Linked DNA regions of Homo sapiens: region 1 is linked to region 2. Evidence: fine-mapped expression QTL. Tissue or cell type: whole blood. Region 2 holds a variant in brackets; the other region holds the start of a gene. All regions are shown on one strand. Distances are from middle to middle.

Evidence for each region. PIP is the estimated chance that this variant, and not a neighbour inherited with it, causes the effect. A credible set is the group of variants that fine-mapping cannot tell apart.
Region 1: it holds the start of SLC4A5, and the variant in region 2 is the best candidate, but not a certain one, in a credible set for the expression of SLC4A5 in whole blood (INTERVAL, PIP 0.59).

What each region holds. Positions count from the first base shown.
Region 1 is chr2:74,341,221-74,346,417 of GRCh38, forward strand. It overlaps SLC4A5 (solute carrier family 4 member 5), which reads right to left and starts at 2,196. Exons shown (of 31, transcript NM_133478.3): 1 at 2,136-2,196; 2 at 1,238-1,314.
Region 2 is chr2:74,369,924-74,374,923 of GRCh38, forward strand. DCTN1 (dynactin subunit 1) reads right to left here. Exons shown (of 32, transcript NM_004082.5): 6 at 4,400-4,417; 7 at 3,005-3,025; 8 at 1,614-1,805; 9 at 1,056-1,253; 10 at 698-902; 11 at 543-621; 12 at 263-422; 13 at 42-146. Among named protein-coding and RNA genes, the nearest start is that of DCTN1, 7.9 kb to the right of the region's middle. The variant C/T (reference allele first, on the strand shown) is at 2,318.

The sequences.
Region 1 (5,197 bases), 29 kb before region 2:
CTTGAACTCAGGAGGTGGAGGTTGCAGCGAGCCAATTATTGTGCCACTGCACTCCAGCCTAGCGACAGAGCGAGACTCCATCTCAAAAAAAAAAAAAAAAAAAGAGTAAATGTAAAAGAGCAGTAAGAGACAAAAATCAAGCTGCTTTCTGATTTTACCACATAAGTCATGTTTGTTCAATGGAACAGTGCACATTAGCTTTAATTGTTAATTAACACGCATCTGTTAAATAACCTTGTATCTGACTTTGGATTTTAAGCTTTCTGAGGGCAAGGACCATGTGCTGTTTAACCCCACACTGTTCCCACAGCCTGGCAAAGTGCCTCAAATTTACACAGGGGGCACTGAGATGGCTGCTGAGTGAATTGCTGACCAAGAGGGACTGCCCCACATCAGGCAGCCCATGCCATTACTGTGCTCACACTGTGCCCGACACAGAGCAAGGGATCATAAGTCCTGGGTGGCTTGAATTGACTCTTCCTAAAAAAAGAGTCTGTGATCTAGGAAGTCCAATATAAAAAGATGTTGCGGATTGCCCAGACTTAGAGTAAGAGGGGCAGAAATGAAGTAGGCATGGATGGTAATTTTGTTTTTCCATCAGGGCTGCTCTTACTCTGGAGTAAGGAGAGGAAGGCTAAGACACAAAAGGGGGACTCCGCCCAACCCAGCTTATGTCCTGTGATACCAGAAGGGAGCATTGCAATGACCTATTAAACCTCAAACCAAGCTGAATCCATTTCTGAGTAAGAGACTCTTACAGGGCTCCTGTCCTCAAAACTATATAAAATTGCTCAAATTATGTACTTCTGAGATAATAAATTAGCAGAAGAAGCACATAGCCCACCTCTTAAGATAGGGAAGTAGATCTGAAGTAGCTCAAGAAACAAAGTTTTCTACAGATGAAGGATGAGGGAAGGAAACCCAAGACCAGTTGATTCTGGTTTGGGAAATGATAACACTGGAGAACACACTCTACTATCTGTTTCTTGTGACATCCTTTGTGCTAAAGTTATCTCCTTTGTTGGCATGGCCACCATCCCTACTTCTAGTGCAGTGGAGATGTATGAGTGTCTCCATTGCTAAGTGTTTAGTTACTCAAGATAAACTTGACTGGAGAGGGTGTGGGCAGGCATTCAGTCAAGCAACAAGCCACTCACTGAGTGCCACCAATGGTGTGGGAAAAGATGACTCTCCTTAGACTGGTCCATCCAAAATAAAGGAGGTGGGGAGAGCATACCTGGGTGGTCTTCAGGGTACTCCTGGAAACATCCATCAGCTCATGAGCTCACAGCTGAATTCCAAATCCTGGGATGCCTGCTTGGAGGGAGGGTAAAACACCATTTCTCAGGGACAGAAGCCCACAAAGCTAAGGGCACTGGGTTTCTAAGTCAGGATTTCATCACGGCTGGATGACCCTTTTTTAAGGAAAGCCAGCTGATCTCCAGGACTCCTGATACATAAGAGCTATGCAGTCTGTCACTTCTAGGGAGAGAGATGGGGACTAGCTCTGGTTCCTCATGCGTTCCTTCCCTCTCACTCCCTAAAGACCTCAAGAAACAGATCCTTGGTAACAATGCCTTCTTTGGGCCAGAAAGCTTAGTTGAAGTGTGGATTCTTATACAAGTCTCATGTTTTCTGGACTCCTAGGAGACTCAGAGGAGACACCATAGGTAACCCTTATTGAACTGGAAGAAGTGTGAAGTACTATCAACCACTGAGACTCCCATGGCTCAAGAATATGCACAGAGGTCTAACTAGATATAGGTCTCAGCCCCTGACTTTAGAAGTCTGACATTCCACAGATATGCACACACTACACGCTCCCCTCACAGAGGAAACTGGAGTAGGGGGACACAGCAGAACAAAATCGCAACACTACTACAGGAAAACCTCGTCATTCCGTTACTTGTCCTTTGCTATGTTGGAATACTTATAGATTAGTTTCAACAATCAGGTTACTCCTTATCTTTGCTCTAAGTCTTGTACAGGCCTTTAGCAAAAAGCAATAAAATTCTCATCTGACTCTTGGTGGGCTGGGGAATCTGCCTATTCTATTCAGTTGGTTCACTCACATCTCCAAACCAGAACCTACAACCACTCTGTAACTTTATTTATGTAAAATCCACTCTACTTACCCCAGTGCAGTGGCCTGTGGCTCCTGGGCCCTGACTCCAATTCCTTTAGGGTGGACCTTGCAGTTGGAACCATCCACCTCTCGTTTTTTCTATCTCTGCTATTAACATAGCCCCTCCTCTATTGCCTCACCAACTATTTTCAAACCAAAAAGTCTTTGTCTATTCATAGCCACTGTAAAAGTAACATTCATTTTTCTGTTTTTTAATCTAATGTCTGCGTCTTCAGTGGTTCTCACTGGCTAATCTAATCAGTGTGTTCTAGGGAGGTTTATTCCTTGCCTGTTCAGCTTGTCCCAGCACAACAAAGGTAAGTCATTTGCCTGGGGAGAATCAGCTCTTTTAAATCAGACAATCCTCAGGAAAGATGTCAGGACTTTTGCCTCTTTTCTTCATGGGACTGAGATTCAGGAGAACATTCCACATTCCACTGCCACACAGCTCTGCAAACCCCAAATCCTGACTCTCCGAAGAAGGATATGGGCAAGGAAAACAAAGAAGGCATTTGAAAAAACCAAACCTTGCAAGAAAAACTTTGCGTACTTGGTGATTTTTCCAGGTTTATCCTGACTTTTGGCCTCTGTTTTTATGAATTCCATTTTTGTTTAAGTGAAAAAGATACGGTGAGAGAGACATAGTGGAAAATGGGAAGTTTGGAGGAAGATGGGAAGGAAGAAGCCAGTGAGTAGGAAGTGAGAATCGGGAGTGGAGGGAGTGAGGGACGCGGTGCTGAGCGATGGGGAAGAGAAGCATGCCAGGAAGGCGCAGCGTCTCTGGGCACCCAGCATGGGGCCTGGTATATGCACACATTTCCCCTCATTGAACTCTCAACAGTCCAGTGGGGAGAGCATTCTCGTCCCCAACCTTACAGAGCTGGAACAGAAGCTCAGAGACTTACAGACAGGAAGAAAAGTAGGAGCTGGAAGCCCCATTAAAAAAGCAACTCTACCCCTCTTCTTCCAGTCTCTTCTGTGGCTTCTCTAAGGGTCTTCAGCCTCCTTATTTCAGGGTTGACCTTCTCTTTCAGATAGGAAATTTATCATCTGGTTGGATATCCTCACTTTCTTCCTAGATCACGTGGAGTTTTCCCTTAGTGGAAAAGCCTCATTCCTGGATCTAGAGCCTGCTGGTGGCAGACATGTAAAAAACATGTTTCGGAGGCCATGCCCAAGCCAACACATTAACCCAACATTATAGTTTCTGTTAATAATCCATGGAATCAAAGACAGGCAAGACTAGGGAGATCAACACATGCTGGGTCACCAGAGGCTTTCCTGGTTTTAGCACAGAAGATCTGTGACCCAGGAAACCCCTTAGTCCCAGGAAGATCAGCACAGCCTAGGCCAGAAACAGTTTCGGGCCTTAGGGAATTTCCAGCTGGTTGGGGATTCAACAAATTCAGAAGAGTGTGAGGCTCCAAAAAGAAGCACAAAGGGAGGGAAGGGTTCAGTGAAAGAAAAATCACCCTTGTTTGGAGGATTACCTTGTTCCACAAATGTTCATGGCTTACCTACCAGCCCCATGTGTTAAAGAAAAGCTTTGTGGAGAAAATGGCCTTGGAGATGCAGTGAAGGGATAGGATAGGGGTAGGATTTAGAACAGTAGAACTACCAAGGGGTATCTGAGGCAGAGGGAAGAAGCCACAAAAAATATAGACATAAGAGGTGGGAGAACATAGCATAAATATCCTGAGAACTGGAGAGCAGTTTCCCTGGCACAGGGCAGGTTTGGGGAAATAAAGCTTTGGGCATGCGACGATAGGCTGGGTAGTCTATGGAGAGGTGTAAACATCAGCAAACATGTCTGAAGTGAAAGGAATGTGGAAGGGGACTTGGTACAAGAATGGAATAATGGACTTCACAGTGGATTGTAGCACAGGTGGAAAGACCAGTTGAGACGTTACTGCCAAGCATTCAAGTGAAACCCTTTGGTTTCTACCTACCCAGGTTTTGTTCAAATAATTTGGACATTTATTTCAGACACTTCAGGTTTGGGGTTTTTTTGTCTCTCACTTCACACAGGAATTTGAGGGTGAGCTTCATCTGGTTTGGTGAGGGTATTGGAAGGTATGGGGCAGGGGCTGTCCCTCCAGGATGCACAAAGGGAACAGGTTTGCAGGCTCAGGAATCCTCCTAATGGAGGAAGGAGGAAGGAGGGAGGAGGACCTGCCCTGGCAGCACCGTGCTTTCTTCCTCGTGTCTAGTGTCCACTGGGATTTGGCTGCTGCACTGCTTGTCTCCCTGTCCAGACCTAATGCCTCGTTAGCTGTTAACCAAAGCATGTTCCTTACTTATTTGAGAGGCTTTCTACCTTGCCAGAGAAAGACAGCCATTTGAATGTTCTCTGTGAGAAAAGGGAAAGGCAGTGTGGCGGTGTGAGACCACAGCCTGAAGTCCCCGACTGCCACCACCTGCCACAATATCCTGCTGCCACTCCCCAGCTCTGCTGTCTCTAAGCCTCAGTTTCCCACATGAACCAGGCGACTAAAGTGGGGATGGCAGATTTTCTCTCAGAAGGGAAAAGTGCTAGGCGTCAGGTCCAAAGAAGTATACTGTAAACCCCTCCTCGTATTCCAGCACTGCTTTGGAATGCTTTTTTTTTTTTTTTTTTTTTGCTTTGGATATTTTTCCTTTTTACTTTTTTTTTTTCAAGTTCTCTCATGAGGTTGCATACTTTACTTTTTTTCATTTAAAAAATGTAGTTCCAGTTGGACTTAGGGAGGAAAGAGAAGTAAATGTTAACAGTTCACTTTACAATCTTGAACGAATTTTTTACTTAAGGTTGATTTAACTTGGTAAGTGTATTTTTTGTGAATTTCCTATTCATATCTATGTTTCTATTGATGTGTTTCTTTTTTCTATTTATTTATTTATTTATTTATTTTTGAGATGGAGTCTCACTCTATCACCCAGGCTGGAGTGCACTGGCCACCATCTCAGCTCACTGTAACCTCTGCCTCTCAGGTTCAAGTGATTCTCATGCCTCAGCCTCCCAGGTAGCTGGGATTACAGGCATGCGCCACCATGTCAGGCTAATTTTTGTATTTTTAATAGAGATGGGGTTTC
Region 2 (5,000 bases):
GCAGGTCCAAGTCAGATGTCAGGGGTCTGCTCTTCTCTTACCAAGTCTCCCACAGTCTCCCTCAACTCGCGCACTTTCTCTTCCAGATTCAGGTTCCGATCTGTCAGCATCTCCACCATCTCCTCAGCACCCAGAGCAGCATCCACCTGTGTTACGGGGAGGATAGGGAGAAGGGCTGCTGGAAGGTACCTAGAAAGAGGAGGCATCAACTGATAGGAGAGTCAGGTGGGGGATTCTGGGTGAGGGGCTGGGCTCCCCAGACCTGCTCCTTGAGCTCATCAATGGTGCTCTCTGCCTGGCTTAGCTCCTCCTGCAGACGCTCCCGCTGTTGCCTCACAACTTCCAGCTCTTGGTTCTTCTTTTCCATGAGCTTCTGGAGCTTCACATGCTCCTGCTTCTCTGAGGAAGAAAGATCCCGCATCCTGCAGGGATGTGAGGAAGGCAGAAGGAGGAAAGCACGTGTCAGAGTCTCTGGCGATGGGTGCTCTAACACATTTGGAGACACAAGAGTAAGCATCAGAGGCAAGCACTGAAGACCCTACCTCACCAGGGCATCCTTCAGGCGGGCATTCTGCTCCTCAAGCTGCTTGAGCTGATAACTGGATGCAGCGCCATCTGAGCCTGGAGAAGATCATTAACACTTTCAGGCATGGTTCTCACCTGACCGTTTGGCCCCCAGCAGCTGTGGGCCCCTTACCCTTCTCTTCAATCTCAGCCTTGAGGATCTCTAAGTCAGTAGTGAGCTCGTCCACCCGCTCCTTCAGTGCCTCCACCTCCTGCTGCAGGGACTCAGCCCGCTCTTCAGCCATCTCCTTGTCCAAAGTGGCCATCTCAATGGCATCAGCAGTATCAGCCATCTCCTCCATATAGCGTTCCTTTGCCTCCAGCGCCTCCTTGGCTTCCTGAGGAAGAAGTGGAGGTGGGAGGGGGTACCAGCACAGAGATGCCCCAGGCCTTTCTCACAGTATGTTCCAGGCTCCAGCTCCAGTCTAGTTTCCAGCATGCTTCCTTAGGTCTCAGGCTGCCCCAGCCACCCCCTTCATCCAGAGTCAAACCTTTCTCGCCTCCTTGAGGCGCCGCTGCAGGTCGGCCTGCTGCTCCTGCATTTTGCTCTTCCATTCCTGCACCTGCTCCAGCTGGATTTTGTGTTTCTCCAGCTCTTTTAGCTTTGCTTTGTCTTCTGCCCGTTTCAGTCTCAGGGTCTCTAGTTTCTCCTCCAGGTCCCGCACCTGAGCCCTTAGTCCCTCCTCCTCCTGCAAAGGAGAGGCCTCACGGTCTGTGCACAGCCCACTCCTCCTCTCCACCAACACTGAGCTGGCGCAAAGAACACAAGAAAGTGTGCAAACATCACCCAGCCCCAGGGTGGCCAACAGTCAGTGGCATAAGAACATCTGAGAGGAAACCGTAGCACAGTATATATGGGGAAAGTATGGCATAAGGGCAAGAAAGGAAAGGATGGCTCAGTCAGTAGCAAGATATCCATAGGCTATGTCCTCACCCTTTCTGATCCAAGTTCTAGGTCTTTGCCAACCCCAGGAAATTTTCAAGACACAGCGGGTAGCCACAAGCCTCTGGGTGTCTTGATTCTCCTTTACCCCTACCCCAGGCCTTACCTTGGATGGGGAAGGAAGCGGGGGGACTGCTCCAGGAGAGGTGAGGACCGGCGTGGGGATGATGGGTGCTGCCAGCGGAGTCTGAGCCGGGGTGCTGGGCTCACTGCTGCTCAGCTCACCTGCTGACGCTGAGCCAGAGGGGCCCAGGGAGCTACTGGCCCCAGCCACCCCAGTACTGGCTGGGCGCGTGGGCTATTCAGAAAGGGTAGAGGCAGACCAGAAAGAAAGCAGAGGATAGGGGTAGTAAGAGGAACAGAAACAGAATATGAGAATATGGCAAGGGAAGGAGACAGAAAAGGGAAAAAGCAGAAAGAGAGTATCAAAGCACAGTGAGAAAAGAAGAATGAAGGGGACAAGGAAAATGATACAGAGAGGCAGAGAGAGATAGTGACAAAGGACAGGGGGAGGATGGAGGCAGAGGAGAGAGGGAGGAAAAGATAAGAGAAAGACATAAGATTATAAGGCTCCTCGCTTGGCACTGACTCCACATTCCTCCTAGCTCTGGCACTACCCTTAAGAGCAGAATCCGTTATTCCCTAGAACCCCCATCTATGACCCACTTGTGATCATTCTAGCAACTCCATTATACTCTCAGTCCCATCCTTGCTCCAGGTCTATGCCCTCCACCCCTAGACGGAAAAAGTACAATCTAATTTCCACAGAAGGTTGGGCCAAAAGTGGGGGTGCCAGGCTCTCTACCCCTG[C/T]TAAGCCCTCTTTGGGAGTCAAGCTGAATCTCCCTCTCTCAGTCTATTTCAGAGGACCCTGCAGGTAAAAGGGCCAAGGTGAAAGTTGTACCCCTAGACTCCCCCTTGAAACAACTCTTCGTCATCTCCCCCGATCTGGCAACACTATCCATGCCCCTGTGGGGCAGGGGAGAAGGTGGGCAGAGGAGCTGACCTGAAGTTCAAGCCCTGGAGCAGACAGGCCTGCCAATGTGCTCAAAGTGCTGAGCCCCAAGGTCTCCCAGTGGGCTGACACTCAGAGATCATGTGCAATCCTCAGACATCCCCACCCAAGGCCTGTCACAGACACACTCACCTCCTTATCCCCTGACATTTTACATGGCCAAGTTCATCTTTCTTCCAATCCCTCCCATCAAAACTGGTCAAAATTCCCTTGTTCAAGAAAGCCTGCTTTGATTAACCACCACAACCCCATTCATTTCTCTTTTGCATTCAAGCTACTGGCTTAGACAACCTCCTAAAAGCCAAAAGCCATTTTCCCCAGGAGGTGCCTGCCAGCACTGCGAACCCCCACCCTTTCCTCTGAAGAGAACCCAGGATACACTATGACGAACTTTCACTTGCTCATACACGTGCCCTCATACATCCACATGCCTGAAACGTGTGTGTACACTCAGCAGTGGCTCACACAGGGGCCTGTTTTCTCACCTTGGGTCGCCGAGTTGTGGTCTGGACAGGCAACAGGAGCCAGAAGAGAAGTAGTCAGGAAAGAAAGGACAATGGCAGAAAGACAGAGAGCAAAAGGGACAGCAATGAGAGCAGAAGAAATAACAGGAATGGGGCTACAGTTAGCCACCCTCCCCCCCATCCCATCCCCTTCTCCCTTCAGTGAATCACTGTATTCCTACTTCAGGAACCCAGAATTCCTGTTCCCCTTGGTTCCTGCTCCCACTTTTGTCCAATCCTTGCAGGCCTCACCCCTTCAGACACCCCAGAAATCCCAGAAGTCCATCTCTAGGCTGAGCCATAGAACAAGGAAGCAGCTAGTGAGAAGGTCCCATGAGACCAGTCCTCCTGCTAACGATCTCTCCAACTCCAGTCCAGAGCCAGAGGCCCCGCCCAGCCACCACTCCCAAGGACTTTCCCAGGTCAGCCTCTTCCTTCAAGTGCTAGACTCTACACAGAACTCCCTAGAAACCCCATGTGACGAGCGTAATCTAAGCCCAGAAATGGGAGATCAGGTCCCTAGGGTAGAACAATGCTGCTGTCCTCCCTCCCCCAACCCCCTTCCCCAGAACCAGATCCTGCAGCAGTCCCGATCACTAGGGAAGAGGGCTCAGGTGTCAGGACCATGAATATTGCATTAGCAGAAGCCCAGAGCTCAGCAAAGTAACCCCACCCAGCTGTAGGAAAGGAGGTGGGGGTGGGCAGCAGCACAGAGAAACTACAGCCCCTTCAGGTTACTGCAAAATGGTAAGTGGACAATTAACTCCAATTTCCAAATAGTGTTCTTGCTACCCAGTATCTCACTGCTCTAGCCAAGACAAGATTTGGCTTGGGCCCTATTTCCAGCATACACTGAGGCCAATTCCCACCTCTTCTACCCTGGGCTAAGCTTCCACAGCTGTGGGTCAAAGACTATTCTAGGTTCCCCATCCCACCCTGGTAAAGTGCCCTGATACAAATCCTGGGGATTGGGGGATACTGGGAGAACAACCAAGAGGTATTCTAGCAAAGGTTGGGTGAGGCAGGCAGGCCTGCTAGAGGCACTGAGATACCTGGGCCTGCTTCCCTAGGTTCTACCACAGGAAACCCTCCCAGATCCGGTATGCGGTAGAGGCTGCCTGAAGCCCAAGCCTGTGAGGCCACTGGGTGTTAAGGCCTGGAACACAGGCAGAGCCAAAAGCAGGCAAGGCAGTAAGCAAATGCCCAGGGTGTGGGGCATAGTGGTGACACACACCTCTCCCTAACCCACCTTCGTCCTCACCCGCCTCCCCGACCAGGTAGACAGATGAAGTCAATCAGCCCCCACCCCCACCCCAGCAGCCTGCTGCCACCATTGCCCTGGCAACCCAGCAGCAGGACGAGAGCAAGCAAGAGTACCTTTCGGGCTGTCGGTGCCTGTCTCATCATTGCAGAAAACCAAAGAAAGCAAGGAGAGGAAAGAGGAGGGACAGAGGAGGATAGACAAACACACGGAGGAAGGACAGACGAAGGGAGGGAGGGCAAGAGACCGAACAGAGGGAAAGGCGGCGGAGACAGGAGATTAGTGCATCAAATCCCAACAATGCAGTCTCAGCCTCCCGGTGCGGCAGCTTCCCAGCCTGCAAACGGCCGCCGCTCTGACACAGAGGCCCCCGCAGACGTGCAGCTGGATCGCCAGGCTCCGGCAGGCACCGGAGCGGTGCCTGGCCCAGTTCACCAGCTTAGGCTGATGGCAGCCTCAGTGGCCGCAGCACCAGCTCCACCTGACGTCATGCACCCACCCTCCTCTGCTCCATGGGGGTGGAGCCACTGCTCCTCAGTCACCTAGCAACCATCTAGGGCTTTGCTGGCTCCTCCTCCTCATGACAGTCATGCGCAGAGCTTGTCCTGCTTCTTTCTCCAAAGAACAGGTTTTGGCTCCTCTCTTCCCTCCCTTGCCCACCCCCAAGAGCGTGCTCCAAAAAACTGGGCCAGGGGCTATCCCAGAAATGGCATTCTA